2 separate regions of the Homo sapiens genome follow, and region 2 is linked to region 1. Evidence: fine-mapped expression QTL. A gene starts in region 1. The other region holds a variant in brackets. All regions are shown on one strand. Distances are from middle to middle. Region 1 holds the start of VPS11 (VPS11 core subunit of CORVET and HOPS complexes). Region 2 has its middle 1.8 kb from the start of HYOU1-AS1.

The links. PIP is the estimated chance that this variant, and not a neighbour inherited with it, causes the effect.
Region 2: its variant is the best candidate, but not a certain one, in a credible set for the expression of VPS11 in whole blood (INTERVAL, PIP 0.55).

Annotation. Positions count from the first base shown.
Region 1 is chr11:119,065,997-119,068,905 of GRCh38, reverse strand. It overlaps VPS11 (VPS11 core subunit of CORVET and HOPS complexes), which reads right to left and starts at 1,088. Exons shown (of 16, transcript NM_021729.6): 1 at 896-1,088. The coding sequence starts at 1,082. It overlaps LOC124902769 (a long non-coding RNA gene), which reads left to right and starts at 1,151. Exons shown (of 2, transcript XR_007062917.1): 1 at 1,151-1,409. RefSeq lists enhancers at 941-990, 1,051-1,100.
Region 2 is chr11:119,040,943-119,043,851 of GRCh38, reverse strand. No RefSeq gene overlaps it. Among named protein-coding and RNA genes, the nearest start is that of HYOU1-AS1, 1.8 kb to the left of the region's middle. The variant C/G (reference allele first, on the strand shown) is at 1,580.

The DNA of each region.
Region 1 (2,909 bases):
ATGGTGCGTGCCTGTAATTTCAGCTACTCAGGAGGTTGAGGCAGGAGAATTGCTTGAACCCGGGAGGCGGAGGTTGCAGTGTGCCCAGATCATGCCATTGCACTCCAGCCTGTGCAACAAGAGTGAAAGTCCGTCTCAAAAAAAAGAAAAAAATTTAGTGCGCCGGGCGCGATGGCTCACTCCTGTAATCCCAGCACTTTGGGAGGCCGAGGCGGGTGGATCACGAGGTCAGGAGTTCGAGACCAGCCTGGCCAATATGGTGAAACCCCGTCTCTACTGAAAATGTAAAAAATTAGCCGGGTGTGGTGGCAAGCGCCTGTAGTCCCAGCTACTCGGGAGGCTGTGGCAGGAGAATCGCTTGAACTCAAGAGACGGTTACAGTGAGCCCAGATCCCGCCACTGCACTCCAGCCTGGGCAACAGAGTAAGACTCCGTATCAAAAAAAAAAAAAAAAAAAAAAAGGTAAAAAGGCCAGAATTTAGTAGCAGCAACATGAAGATGAAAGCAACAAACCGCTAGGCTCATTTACCTCCTCGCCAACGATAATATTAGGGCAGGGGAAATCATGTCACTTTACATATTCATCTTTTAAAGCCAACTTGCATTCTTTTTCTTATTGATCTCAAATTAACCTCGTCAAATTGGCATGCACACATCTCCTACAGATAAGGAAATTAAAACCCAGAGAGGTTAAATGACTTGCCCAGGATTGCTCAGTTGATAACAAGTTAGGAGATGGACTTCCTTCTTTCTTCCCGTAGACCACAGAACAACTCTGGATGACCAGCTAAACCAAAGAGGCGCGCGGCACGGACCCCTCCGACAAACAGATTTCATCCTAACTCGATCTCTTCGGGATCCCGGGAGGGAAAAGACAGCTCCAAACGAAGGATATCTCCAAAGACCAGGCTCCCTCGGCCTGAGTCGCAGACAGTGATGCCAGGAGGGAGGCAAAGGAACTTGGAAGCAGCGGATCCAGAAGCAGGTGTGGCCCCGGGAGCGGCCCCATCATTGCTCAGCGGCTCCTTCACCAGCTCCTTGTCGAAGAAAACGAAGCGCCGCCACTGCAGGTAGGCCGCCATTTTGGCCCAGGGCTCCCACCTCCGGGAGCTTTGTCACGTGAGCTGAGCCAGCGAATCACGTGGTCGGCAGCTTCCGGGAGCCCGCGGGCCCAGGAGCTCCTGAGTCGGGGTGACAGCGTCCCGCTGCTGGGAAAGTGGGCGGGGCCGCGCGGGGTAGTCCTAGATCTGCAGTGTGCGAGTTTGCCGGATGTGACTGTAACTTCGCTAGCTAAAATGCTTGAGAGCGGACCCTTCATCCCTTTGAGCATGTTTCTTCCTAAAATGCGCGGATACCGGGAGATCAAGATGAGGGATGTCATGTGCCTTGTGAACTGTCACCCGCCGTGCGTAAGTGAATGACGTTTTGACCTCACAGGACTGTTTTGGGGCATAAATGAAACAGTGTATGTTAAACCAGGTTTTCGGCTGTATGAGAGGAGAAATAAAATTAGAAGTTTGTGTCTGCCACCACGCAGATTGTGAACCATAGTCAATGTTTTATATTCGTTTTTGTTTCCCCCGTCAGAGCGTATGACACCTAACAGACGCTCAAAACGTTTCTTAAGGAAACGGGCTGGGCGCGATGGCTCATGCCTGTCTGTAATCCCAGCACTTTGGGAGGCCGAGGTGGGGGAATCACTTGAGCCCAGGTGTTCGAGACCAGCCTGGGCAACATGGTGAAACCCCATCTCTACAAAAAATACAAAAATGAGCCTGGCATGGTGGTGGACACCTGTGGTCCCAGCTACTTGGGAGGCTGAAGTGGGAGGATCGATTGAGCCCCGGAGTTGGAAGCTGCAGTGAGCTGTGATCGAGCCGCTGCACTCCAGCATGGGCGACAGAGCAAGACCTTGTCTCAAAAAAAAAAAAAGGAAACTGGGAAATACTGGTGGGGCAGGAATTCCCAAGGCCCTGGGCTTTCTCCCCCTTTCATAGTGGCAGGGTAGGGGACATAGAACTGAGCAAAAACCTGGAAGTGGCAGCTTTGAGAGCTGAGTGTTTTAATGAGAAGTGGCAGGTGTCCAAGATATTACATGATCATTCTCCACTCCCAACTCTGGCTAAACCATCTTTGAATCCAAGCAAGATCTATCCTCATGGACAACTACTGCAGGTTTACTGTTTGTGTGCCATGAGAACCTATAGACAGAAGTGACATAGCATCATTTTGAGATGGTAGGGACATATGGAAAAGTGACCCTGTGGTATTTGTGAAGTTTATTGTTTGCACTCCCCCAACTTCCTTTTTTTTCTTTTTTCTTTTTTTTTTTTTTTTTTTTTAGACAGAGTCTCTCTCTATCCCCCAGGCTGAAGCGCAGTGGCACAATCTCAGCTGACTGCAACCTCCGCCTCCCGAGTTCAAGCGATTCTTATGCCTCAGCCTCCTGAGTAGCTGGGATTACAGCTGCCTGCCACCACGCCTGGCTAATTTTTGTATTTTTAGTAGAGTTGGGGTTTTGCCATTTTGGCCAGGCTGGTCTCGAACTCCTGACCTCGGGTGATCCACCCGCCTCGGCCTCCCAAGTACTGGAATTACAGGCGTGAGCCACCGCACCCGGCCCTCCCCCAACTTATTTCAGAATATTTGATGCTGTATTTCCACCAGCCAGAGTTCCCTGAGAGCGGGGGCTACATCTTGTACCGTAACTGTGAACGAGGCCTAGCAGAGCCTGGTAGAAGTTCCATGTTTGGTTGAAGGAATGAATGTGGTGTGGATGCCTCTCCTCTTATCCACTCCTCTCCTCAATCTGGTTGATGGGCAGGTGGCGTCCATTTGTCTGAAGAGGTAAATGATAGGAAGAAACTCTAGCCACCACCATGCACACAGATTTCCTGACTTCCAACTCA
Region 2 (2,909 bases), 25 kb after region 1:
ATGTTATTGACACTTTGGACTTAGTTGAGATTTGTATATGTATTTTTTTCAAGGAAACAAAATACTGGTTTTATTTTACTGCTAACATTATTTGGACTCCTATATCCCAGGCATTTTTAAGTAACGTACTTTTTTTTTTTTTTTTTCTTTGAGACTGGGTCCTGCTCTGTTGCCCAGGCTGGAGTATAGTAATGCGATCCAGGCTCACTGCAACCTCCGCCTCCCGGGTTCAAGTGATTCTACTGCCCCAGCCTCCTGAGTAGCTGGGATTACAGGCACCTGCCACCATACCCAGCTAAATTTTTTTTGTATTTTAGTAGAGACGGGGTTTCACCATGTTGGCTAAGCTGGTCTGGAACTGACCTGAAGCGATCCACCTGCCTTGGGCTCCCAAAGTGCTGGGTTTACAGGCCTGAGCCACTGGGCCCAGCTGGTAACATTAATTTTTAAAATAGCAACCTCATTGTACAAATAAGATACCAGTTCATAGAGATTTAGCAAGTAATTGGTCCAAGGAATGAATCAATGTTGAGTGCTTCAGCTAGGTTTGAGCTTAATTCTGACCATTCGCCCTTGTTCTTCGTACTTAGCCGTGGGAATGTGTTGGTAGAGACCATTTGTAGCAGTTTCGGTTCATCAGTTTGGGATGCAGCATGCCTAGCCCAAATTTTCTATTACCAAGGGAGGATCCCTCTTGTCACTAATCATGTACATATCTAAGCAGTTGTATACGGTATACAGGGTGTTGCTCTGTCACCCAGGCTGGAGTGCAATGGTGCCATCTTGGCCCACTGCAGCCGCGACCTCCCAGGCTCAAGCAATCCTCCCACCTCAGCCCTGTAGCAGGGACTACCTGGCTAATTTTTGTATTTTCTGGTCGAGACGGGGTTTCACTATGTTGCTCAGGCTGGTCTTGAACTCCTGGACTCAAATGATCTGCTTGCCTTGGCCTCCCAAAGTGCTGGGATTACAGGTATGAGCCACTGAGCTTGGCCCCGTTGTATTTACATTTAATAACCATGAAGGCCCAGCCGGGTGTAGTAGCTCACGCCTGTAGTCCTAGCACTTTGGGAGGCCAAGGCAGGCGGATCATGAGGTCAGGAGATCCGAGACCATCCTGGCTAACACAGTGAAACTCCGTCTCTACTAAAAATACAAAAAATCAGCCGGACATGGTGGCACCCGCCTGTAGTCCCAGCTACTCAGGAGGCTGAGACAGGAAAATCAATTGAACCCGGGAGGATGAGGTTGCAGTGAGCTGAGATCGTGCCACTGCACTCCAGCCTGGGCGACAGCTAGACTCTGTCACACACAAAAAAAATAACCACGAAGGGTTGTCTTTTTTCTCTAAAAGTTGAACAAGTCAGATAAGTTTTGAATGTGGAAGTTTTGGGTTTTTGTTTTTTTTTTTTTGGATGACTTTTAGACAGTTTCAGATTCACAGCAGAATTGAGCAGGAGGTACAGAGTTGCCATATACCTCCTGTCCCCACATACTCAATCTCCCCCAGAGTGGTACATTTGTTACAATCACCCAAAGTTCTGTATGACACCATAATGGTGGGTACATATACATTTGT[C/G]AAAACCTATAGAATGTGCAACACCAAGACAACTGAAAGTGTAGACTTTGGGCAAATATGATGAGTCAGTGTAGGTTCCTCAGATGTAACACCTGTAGACCTCTGGTGTGAAGTGTTTATTATGGGGGAAGCTGTGAGTGTATGGAGGAAGGGAATATACGGGAACTCTGTATTTTCCCCTCAATTTTGCTGTGAACCTAAAAGTGCTCTAAAAAAAAAAGGCGAAGCTAAGTGCAGTGACTCATGGCTGTAATACCAGTGTTTGGGGAGGCAGGAGTGGAAGGATCGCTTGAGGCCAGGAGTTTGAGACAACATAGCCAGACCTCATCTCTACAAAAAATAGTAGTCCTAGCTACTCAGGAGGCAGAGGCAGGAGGATCACTTGAAACTAGGAGTTCAAAGCTGCAGTAGATTATGATCGCACCACTGCACTGCAGCCTGGGAGGGAGAGACCCCGACTCAAAAAAAAAAAAAAAAGGCCCGGCGCGCCTTGCCTCAAGCCTGTAATCCCAACACTTTGGGCGGCCGAGGCAGGCGGATCACCTGAAGTCAACAGTTTGAGACCAGCCTGGGCGACAAGAGCGAAACTCTGTCTCAAAAAAAAAAAGGGTGGGGAGGTGGGGGGCAGGCACGGTGGCTCGGGCTAGTAATCCCAGCACCTTGGGAGGCTGAGGCAGGCAGATCACAAGGTCAGAAGTTTGAGACTAGCCTGGCTAACACAGTGAAACCCTGTCTGTACTAAAAATACAAAAATTAGCTTGGCGTGGTGGTGGGCACCTGTAATCCCAGCTACTCAGGAGGCCGAGGAAGGAGAATCACTTGAACCCAGGAGACAGAGGTTGCAGTGCGCCAAGACTGGGCCACGGCACTCCAACCTGGCAACAGAGCAAGACTCCGTCTCAAAAAAAAAAAAAAAAAAAAAAAAAAATCGGGACTAGATGGCTTCACTGGTGAATTCTACCAAATATTTTTAAAATATTTATTTTGGCCAGGGATGGTGGCTCACATCTGTAATCCTAGCACTTTGGGAAGCCGAGGTGAGTGGATTGCCTGAGCTCTGAAGTTTGAGACCACCCTGGGCAACATGGCGAAACACCATGTCTACTAAAATACAAAAAATTAGCCGGGTGTGGTGGTGTGTGCCCGTAGTCCCAGCTACTTAGGAGGCTGAGGCTTGAGAATTACTTGAACCCAGGAGGCAGAAGTTGCAGTGAGCTGAGGTCATGCCACTGCACTCCAGCCTGGGCAACAGAGCGAGACTCTGCCTCAAAAATAAAAATAAAAAATAGCCAGGCCCGGCCGGGCGCAGTGGCTCACACCTGTAATCCCA